Linked DNA regions of Homo sapiens. The protein of the gene in region 1 interacts with the protein of each later gene in a pairwise test. Each region holds a gene or a part of one and is shown in the gene's direction. Other genes may lie near its edges.

Region 1 (5,054 bases):
ATCACAGCGTCCCCCTGCTGCAACACTGTGGTGCTGCCCCAGTGGCACTCCTTCTCCAGGACCCACAACGTCTGTGAACTCTGTGTCAACCAGACCTCCGGGGGCATGAAGCCGAGCTCGGTCAGCGTGCCACAGTGCAGCTTTTTTGAAATGGCAGCAGCTCTGGATTCTTTCTACCTCAAGGAGCAGACCTTTTATCATGTGGCATCAGACAGCATAGAATGCAGCAATTTTTTAACTTCCTATAGCCCCTTCAGCTACTACACTGCATGTTGCAGGACCATAAGCAGGGGTGTGTCAGGCTTCATCGACTCTGAACAAGGTGTCTTTGAAGCCCCTACTGTTGCATTTTCTTCCCTTGAGAAGAAATGTGAGGTTGATGCCCCAAGCTCCGTTCCTCACATTGAGGAGAACAGGTATCTCTTTCCAGAAGTGGACATGACTAGCACAAACTTCACAGGCCTGAGCTGCAGAACCAACAAGACTCTCAACATCTACCTTTTGGATTCAAATTTGTTTTGGTTATATGCAGAGAGACTGGGTGCTCCGAGCTCCACTCAGGTGAAAGAATTTGCGGCAATTGTTGACGTGAAAGAAGAATCTCATTACATCTTGGATCCAAAGCAAGCACTGATGAAGCTCACCCTAGGTACTGCAGGCAGTTTATTTCCCCAAGCATTGTACATTTTGCTTGACTTCATATGGGTAAATTTTATTGATGGCTCTCATTACATTTAGTTGTGGGGTGATGTCACCTTCGTAGCTCATTTTAAGTCTTTAGACCACCATCAGTCATAATTTTCAAAGAAGCTAATTTTGTCTATTAAATGGAACAGAAACTTCCTCACTCTGAATTTTGGATAAGTTTGTCATTTAGCCCATGGTGGGGGTAAGAGTCCCACTTTCTAAATTGGCGATTTCTGTCACATGTCTAAGGTAGAACCAGCTGCAGGCAGTGGGGACTTGGGGACTAGAACAGGCAGGGAGGTGGAGAGCTATTCTGGTGGGATGTCCTAGGGGCTGATGAAAGTGAGCCTTGACAGCAGCTTTGTTCTAAAGGAGCTTAAAGAGAAAGCAGTGGCCGGGCGCAGTGGCTCACGCCTGTAATCCCAGCACTTTGGGAGGCCGAGGCGGGTGGATCACGAGGTCAGGAGATCGAGACTATCCTGGCTAATGTGGTGAAACCCCGTCTCTACTAAAAATACAAAAAAAAAAAAAATTAGCCGGGCGCGTTGGCGGGCGCCTGTAGTCCCAGCTACTCGGGAGGCTGAGGCAGGAGAATGTCGTGAACCTGGGAGGCAGAGCTTGCAGTGAGCAGAGATCGCGCCCCTGCACTCCAGCCTGGGCGACAGAGCAAGACTCCGTCTCCAAAAAAAGAGAGCAGTGAAGAAGGAAGTAGAGCCGCCTTGCCTCCCTTTTTGTCTCATAGGCTTAAATGTCTAAGGATCAAGGCCACCAGACCTAATTTGTTCTGCTGCTGTTTCATAATGTACTGAGTAATATTGCTGGGACCTGGGGTACCTACACTGTAACAAGTGTAAAGTGCAAATAAATAAGTGTCAGTCGCAAACCAGCAAAACCCACTTTTTGAGGAGTAAGGCTCCATGATGAGAAAGCACCCAGAGCTTGCCCCTGGGACTTGGCAGCAACATTGGGCTGACCCACCCTGGCCTGTTCCCAGGAATTTGCTGATGCCCTTGACTACACACAATGAAGTGAGAATTCAAAAGCCACGTTAGTTCAGCCTCATTGGAAACGGGAGGGAGGGTCAGTGTATGCCGAATGGAGAAAGGAGGAATTTGGTAGGGAAGGAAACCTTTCATTTCAAGTTTTAAAGTATGAACTCAACAGTAGACTCAGAGCTTCTACATATGAGTCTTTTTAGCCATCCTCTTTCAAATCTAGGTGAAGCTTGTTTCTTACATTAGACACATTTGTGAAAAGGCTTTATGTAAATATTGATTTTTCTATATCAAGTTACATATTATAAATCCAAGAGTTCCTCACTGTGTAAAAGAACCCTGTGACCAGTCACTTTTTGAAGGGCATAAATCTGTCGATATTATAGATTACTCCCAATTCATGTTATCTAAAGTCATTTTGATGTGTTGAGCTTTCTTAAAATGAAACAAGCATTTTTTTTTTAAATGGGAAAGAGACTCCAGAGAAATGGGGTCAGTGTTCCTACAAGCATGTATTTTTGAGGTAGTCTGTATTAGATTTTCCTGAATTCCATTCAGTAATGCTCAAGTGTTTAATGACCTCATAATGTGTTCACTTTGAATTTAAGGGTAATTGAAAGAAGCCTTCTTTAGATTTCTTTCCATCTTCTGTATCTTCTCTGAAATGTTTAGCCTAGCTGTTCTTTGTCCTGCAGTTAGTGACAGAATTCTTAGGGAGCTTGTAAAAAACACCTACTGTGTGTCATTGTTGGTTTAGAGACTTAACTCATAAATCAGCTGTCTCTAGGCTAGTTTCAGAATTTAGGCTTTATTCAGATTAGGAAATAATTCTTGGTTTCATGTTTCAAAAACATAGCCAACTAAGTGTTTCTCAGATGCTGATCATGAATTCTCTTTAGTATTCACATGACATTCTTCACTTCCTCTTCCATTCTGCACGCTGCATTGCCCATTGCACCTCAAAATGGAGGGAGTTAGAAGAAAGAAAAAGAACTGAAACTTTAGCTGAGTGCAATGGTGGACGCCTGTAGTCCCAGCTACTCTGGAGGCTGAGGTAGGAGGATCGCTTGAGCCCAGGAGTTTAAGGCTACAGTGAGCTATGATTGCAGCACTGTACTCCAGCCTGGGCAACAGAGTGAGACCCTGTCTCTTTAAAAAAAAAAAAAAAAGTGAAATTCAAATTAGTATTGTTTCAGATGAAGCAAAGGACTCTGAAGATGGCAGAATTTGTGGTAAAACTGTTGGTTCAAATCAGGTTTTTGATTATTATGGGTTTTATGTATTTTTCCACTACATATAATTTTTTCTTAACCTTTAAAAAAAGAAACTTAAAGAACCTTAATAAAGGAAACAAAAAACTGTAGCTCCTTGTCCTCAAATTAATGAGCATTTAAACACATTCCACACTACTGTAGCTTGTGCAGTTGTCACATTTGTGGTTAAGCTTAAAGGTCTTAGTATTATAGGGTGAAATTTCTTGAAAAGATGGTGGCTTGTTGATGATTTATACAGTCTCACTTGGTGTCTATTTGTGGACCAGTCCTTTTAAAAAAAGAATAGTCTATGAATATTAGAGCATCTAACATTGCATAGTGTTTTGTTATCCACATTACTGTCTGCTGAGTTAATACTACCAGAGCTAAACCTGATGCCACCCGGGCAGCTTTGTTTGGGGTTTTGCTGATAGGTGAAATGTTAAAAATGTGAGCCTATGAAGTCATTTGAGTTTTTAAAATGTGGAGTTTAAAAGTAGGCCAGCTATTCTCTTTGTATCTAGAGGAGAGTTGATCTCATTTTCTCTTTATTTTTAGAGTCTTTTATTCAAAACTTCAGCGTTCTCTATAGTCCCTTGAAAAGGCATCTCATTGGAAGTGGCTCTGCCCAGTTCCCGTCTCAGCATTTAATCACTGAAGTGACAACTGATACCTTTTGGGAAGTAGTCCTTCAAAAACAGGTATGGAGTCATGAGAGGCAAAAGTTAAGCCATCTGTCCCTCTTAAAATAATTTCCAAACTACAGTTGTTGGGGTGAGCAGCTGTTTTTGATGTATAGAAGAGTAACCACGTGATGGCCCAATTATGGACCGTGAATGAATTACATGTGGTTTTTAAATTTCAGAAAAGTGCTCCAGAAAGCACAGTATTGGAAAGACCTAAAGATGAAAATTTTCACTGTAATATTTGCATAGGTAGCATTTTTCGGGTGCTTGCTGGATTCTAAGCAATGAGGAAAGAAATGAAGAAGAGCCCATTTCCCGGTGCAAGTAACATCTGTCTTCCCTTTCCCACAGGACGTTCTCCTGCTCTATTACGCTCCGTGGTGCGGCTTCTGTCCATCCCTCAATCACATCTTCATCCAGCTAGCTCGGAACCTGCCCATGGACACATTCACTGTGGCAAGGTAAGCAGGCCTCTTCTGCAGCGCTTTGGGCTGTATGCCCATTTTCACTCTTATTTGCAGCTTAGCCATATGGTGTGTGAGGGTCTGCCCATTTTCCATTAACCTTTGGTAGGACTTGGCTGAATTTAATTGTCAGGTTGAAGCCATGAGCAAAGCCTCTTTGAAACTGAACTTTTCCTCATGAATTCTGAGTGTTCCTTCCATGATGTTGATGTTTAGCCCTGACTAGATTCGTAGGTGGCTGAGTGCAGTTCTGTGGGGAGAGCACTGACCTGGTTGCCAGGATGGCCCCGTGGAATACCATGGGACAGTTGCCCCAGGCAATGCCAGTGGGTCCTGGGATCCCAAGCAGATCTCTCCACCAGCCCTGGTTTATCTCATTTGTGAAATTAAAAGGAAAGACCAATAGATATCCACATTCTGGTATTGTGATTCCATGGGTACTGTATGTGCGCTTTTGAGTAAACAAAATTTTTAAAAATATTTTTTGGGAAAAGAAGGCTCAAATACAGAGTCTTTAGATGGGGTAGTAAGCAGTTTTGGGTGAGGAAAACTGTTCACATTTAACCCCCCACCTCCCCCAAAACCCTACAGATAGATAAGAGTTAAATATAAAAAAATCAAAACAAAAAATAGGATTTGCTGATTCCTCTGGGAGATGGAAACTTTCCAAAGTGGAAGCAGTTGGAAAAATAAAGAGAGAAAAATGGACAGATTCCACTAGAAATACGTGCAGTGAAAACAGGGAAAGCAGACAAAAAGGGGGACCATTAATATATTTTCCAGTGTCTCTGTGTCACCTGTTATATGCACTGTAAGTAATAATTAGAATCAAATCTGAGGAGTTACTATGTTGGGAGAGTTTTTGATATACATATTACCTGACTGAGTCCTTGCGACGCTTAGTGAAGGCACTCTAGTTAAAAAAAGAAAGTGCTATTTGTGTTGAGGAGGAAACTGAGACATAGAAAG
Region 2 (4,950 bases), on another chromosome or scaffold:
TTGAGACAGGGTTTGGCTTTCTTTCCCAGGCTGGAGTGCAGTGGCATGATCTTGGCTCACTGCAGTCTCTGCCTCCCAGGCTCAAGCAGTCCGCCCACCTCAGCCTCCGAGTAGCTGGGACCACAGGTGTTTGCCTCCAAGCCTGGCTATTTTTGTGTTTTTTGTAGAGATGGGGTTTCACTGTATTTCCCAGGCGAACTCCTGAACTCAAGTGATCTGCCTGCCTTGGCCTCCCAAAGTGTTGGGATGACAGGCTTGAGCCACTGCATCCTGCTGAGACAGAATTTTTGGGCCAGTTAATTTATGATTGTTACATATAAACTTCAGAAAAAGATTCATGTATTACATTACCTATTCATTTCAAGTAAATTTTTAGTCTATTTTTAGCAGTTGAGCTGCTTTTGCCATAGCTGTATGCCATTTAGAAAGTCTTTTTCCTGCGTAAATCTGAGTTCCTGATTTGTCTTGTAAAAGGAAATGTTTAACTTAGTGACTTGAATGTAATAAATGTTTGTGACTGTTGCTGTAATCGATGATAATTAATAGAGACTTAACTTTCTGATAGAAATTGCATAATCCCATTTTCTTGTAATTATTTAAAAAAATGTATTATTAAAAAATAGGCCAGGCACAGTGGCTCACACCTGTAATCCCAGCACTTTGGGAGGCTGAGGCAGGCAGATCACAAGGTCAGGAGTTTGAGACCAGCCTGACCAACATGGTGAAACTCCGTCTTAACTAAAAATACAAAAATTAGCTGGGTGTGGTGGCACACACCTGTAATCCCAGCTACTCAGGAGGCTGAGGCAGGAGAATCGCTTAAACCCGGGAGGCAGAGGTTGAAGTGAGCCGAGGTCACGCCATTGCACTCCAGCCTGGGTGACAGGGTGAGACTCCATCTCAAAAAAAAAAAAAAAAAAAAAGAGTATTATTAAAAAATCAAGTTTTCCCGTAATTATTTTAAAAATGTAGACTATAATTTCCTCCAAAGTAGATAATGTCTTTTACTGTTATTTGTTCTCTTCAGTACCTCATGGTTTTCAGCATTTAGTAGGTATCTAATGAAAGCGTTCATTTAAGGAATGAAGTACAAGTATTTGTAGTATTAACTAGACCAGAGAGACCTTTGACAATATTTACTTTTCTCTAAGCTGCTAACCTAATGTACTGCAAGAGGATCTTGCACATATGTATTTTAAAATAAATGCTATGCAGATTTTATTAGTGTTTTATGTGATCTAATGTATGCATTTATGCCAGCATCAGTGAGTATGCATAGTTCAGAAGTAGTCTATAAGTTTTCCTAAGAATGAGGACCCTTGAAATTCCTTTTAATCTTTTGATTATATGTACTTTATTTCATAGCATTAAAATGTATAGTGAAGTTGTGGCATCGCAGGAGATAAGAGTCTTTAAGAAGGAGTAATATAAAAATGGAGTATGAACAAAATTATCCTTGAAAAATCTCTTAAATCTGCTATGAAGTTGAAAATACTAGTTTGTATATGTAAACCTGTACGATAATAAAAATATAAATATATAGTACATAATAAAATATGCCAAATATGTTACATACATTTTAATTTCATAACAAAGAAAGTGCTTAGAGTTGAATTCAAGTAGGTTCAAAGTGTGTTGATGCATCCACAATATGCTCATTGTTAGGAATTTGGATTGAATATTTCACTTTTCCACGTACAACTTTCTCACAAGTTGATAAGTGTTTATTTTCTATTTTGTATGTGCAGCCTCATATTTGTCTTTTCTCTCGTTAGAGACATCATTTCAGCTTTCCATCCATTTTTATTTATGGACATACTGCTAGTGGAAAGACCTATGTAACACAAACGTTGTTGAAAACTTTAGAGGTAAGAATAAAAATATTAAATATTTCTTTGCCATTTTTAGTGTATAATATTGGTACTGATAATTGTGAATCTCCACAAATGCAAAATTGAACATACCACCTTTACATTACTCTCCTTCCCATATTATCTTTCTCCATGAATGGTCTACTGTCATTGACACAGTTGTCCAAACTTGCACTTTCTTAACTCTTTCCTCATCTTCCCTCATTTAGTAAATCACATCAATAAACTTAGTCTGTTGCTTCACATTGTTAAAATCATGTCTCCATCTACCTTTAATCCTAGCCATTGCTGCTAGGATTTTCATTTACCATTGTTTTTTTTCCATGTATTTCTGTAAGCCTCTTATTTGCAATCTTCACCCAGCAGCTAGGCCATGCAAATCTTAATATTTTCAGGACAGTGTTCAAGTAATTCGCCCATTGTATAAGACCTTTCATGAGCTGAATTTATCTTTCATAACACAGTGGTTAAGAGTTTGGGCTGTGGAGTCTGGCAGACTCATGTTCCTTTTTGGATTCACCAGTTAGTGCTTTCTCCATCTGCAAAGTTGGCTCATAGTGACAACATTTGGGATTAAGAGAATTAAATGTTAGCACATGGAAAGTGCTTTCTGCAGTACATAGTGCGTAGTAAGCACTCAATAAAGGTTAGCTGCTATTATTGATGAGTATTGCCATACTCCCTTTCATATCCTAAACCAGAGATGGGCAGTCTTTTTCTTAAGGGCCGGATAACTAACATTTTGTGCTTGTGGACCACGTAGTTTCTGTCTCACCTGCTTGACTCTACTGTATTGTGAAAGCAGCCATGGGCATTCTCTATGTGAATGGGCATGACTGTGTTTCAAAGCAACAGTATGTACAAAAACAGGTGGCTAGCCCACAGGCTTTGGCTTGCTAACCCCGTCCTCCTCTAGCACTGAGGATGCACGTTTAGGATAGCATACTGAACTGTGTACAGTTCCTGCTGTCTTACTTTCAAGCCATGGCACATGTTGCTCCCCTACTTGGAATGGCTTTCCTGTACTCGCTCTTCCTGTTGCTTGGCAAATGCTTATTTATTTTGCCAGGTTTTCTTCTACTTATACTCTACAAGGTCTTTCCTGATCCTCTAGGCTGTATCAGATGCCCCCCTGTTTTGCAACCTTAGCACCCTGTGCTTAATTCTGTCATAATATTTAGCCTTCTCAGCTATGATTTTGTGTTTATGTTTCCCTGGCTTTAGATTGTGAGTTTCTTGAAATTATCCCCAGCACCAAGCACATTACTTGGCACGTATTAACTTGTGGATTTCAGCTTATTAAGTTGTAGATTTCAGCTTTTGATCTCAAAGATCAGCTGTGCATTTTAAAAAACACATATGCCTGGGCTATATACTGGACTTCAGAATCTGAGTGTACAAGGTCTTGGTCCAGGCATTTGCATTTCAGAACCCCCTGAATGAAGTGCCCCCAAAATATATGTTGAATAAAAGCAATAAAACCCAGTAAGGAAGTTTCATATTTAAGGACTGTATTCCATTTTTTATCACACTGTAGTTTCTGCTGTTACTTAATCAGTGTAATATATGATTATTGTTACTACTTCTGATACAGGGACTCAGACAGGCACTTAGAATATGCTGCCTTTAAAAGTCATGGATGGTACAAATGCCGTAAGCAAGACACTATTCATAACAGAGATGTTGTGGACTTTTGTTCTTAAAGGACAGTAAAGGAGTGAGAGAGAAGTGAGTTAGCAAATGCTGGTGAAACTGTCCCCAAGTAAGTTTAATGTGGCTTTAGTGACACTGTTATTCAGAGAAAGAAAAGCCTCCTTATTGGATAAAGTTTATAAAATCACTAAAAATAGTTACCAGTTCCATTATTTGTGCCAAGTGCCACAAGTTATCTTCCTCAGAATGAATCTGCTTTTGTGATCTTATTTTGAGGATAGACTGTATTGGTGAGCAAGTCTCGTTTGTGACCTTATTACTTCTGGAGTTAACTCATGTTGATATTTTGATAGTTTTTTAAATGAAGGGCTAGTTTTTTTTGTTTTGTTTTGTTTTTAAATGGGGTCTTGCTCTATTGCCCAGGTTGGAGTGCAGTGTTATGATCATAGCTCATTGCAGCCATGAATTCCTGGGCTCAAGTGATACTTCCACCTCAGCCTCCCAAGTAGCTGGGACTATAGATGTGCACCACCAGGCCTGTCTAATTTTTTTTACTTTTTTAAAGACAGAGTCTCACTGTGTTTCCCAGGCTGATCTTGAACTCCAGGGGTCAAATGATCCTCCCACCCATCCTAAAGCACTGGGATTACAGGCAGGAGCCATATGCCTAGCAAAGAGCTAGTGCTTACAGTCCTCGTAGGAGGATTGCTATGGTTTCTAACTCTTAAAATTCTTTTTTTTTTTGACTTAGTAAACGTTTATTCAAGGATATTATATTAAAGTTATAAGTGTGAAATTCCTATTAAGATTTTTAACATTCAAATATGCTTAGATTTCTTTTCTTTTTTTTTTTTTTTTAATAGTGACAGGGTCTCGCTATGTTGCCCAGGCTGGTCTGGAACTCCTGACCCAAAGCCTTGGGATTACAGACATGATCCACCATGCCTGGCTGATTTCTTTATAAGAATTCTTTATAGGAAAATACAAATTTGCTTTGAATTTCCATAAGAAAGAAATGGCAAGCTGAAAGAAATAATTGAAGTGAGTTTAATGAAGGGACAGTTTTATAATGGAAATTTTATGGGAATCACTAAGGGATGATGGTACACCAGGGCCTTTACCACCTCCAGGCCTGAAGGGACCATAGAAAGGAGCTGTTATTGGAACCAAACAAGAGGTGTAGCCTTAGAAGAGGGGCTGTCCAACTTGATCTTTGGTAGAAGAGTATCCACTGCCAAGCTAGGGCCACTGAGGGGTCATGGTGGGAGTCAAGGAAATCAATATCCAAACTTCTCTCCCACCATTCTCCCTTAGTCTCCTGCTGGTTCTTTCCATTGGCTTCTCCATCCAGAGACAGAAAATAAGAGAGTCCAGGTGATGTAATTCTGTAGCTGTCAGGCTCTTGGGGCATGGGGTGGGTTTGGTG

What was found. Proteins that work in one complex are often made in the same cells at the same time.
Region 2: the proteins of TXNDC11 (region 1) and ORC5 interact in a two-hybrid assay, tested with the Homo sapiens proteins (one large-scale study listed by BioGRID and IntAct).

The regions. Positions count from the first base shown.
Region 1 is NC_000016.10:11,686,885-11,691,938, reverse strand, and holds part of TXNDC11 (thioredoxin domain-containing protein 11), read left to right. Parts: coding exon 1-649; intron 650-3,493; coding exon 3,494-3,636; intron 3,637-3,972; coding exon 3,973-4,082; intron 4,083-5,054. UniProt on the Homo sapiens protein: May act as a redox regulator involved in DUOX proteins folding. The interaction with DUOX1 and DUOX2 suggest that it belongs to a multiprotein complex constituting the thyroid H(2)O(2) generating system.
Region 2 is NC_000007.14:104,201,060-104,206,009, reverse strand, and holds part of ORC5 (origin recognition complex subunit 5), read left to right. Parts: intron 1-1,775; coding exon 1,776-1,868; intron 1,869-4,950. UniProt on the Homo sapiens protein: Component of the origin recognition complex (ORC) that binds origins of replication. DNA-binding is ATP-dependent. The specific DNA sequences that define origins of replication have not been identified yet.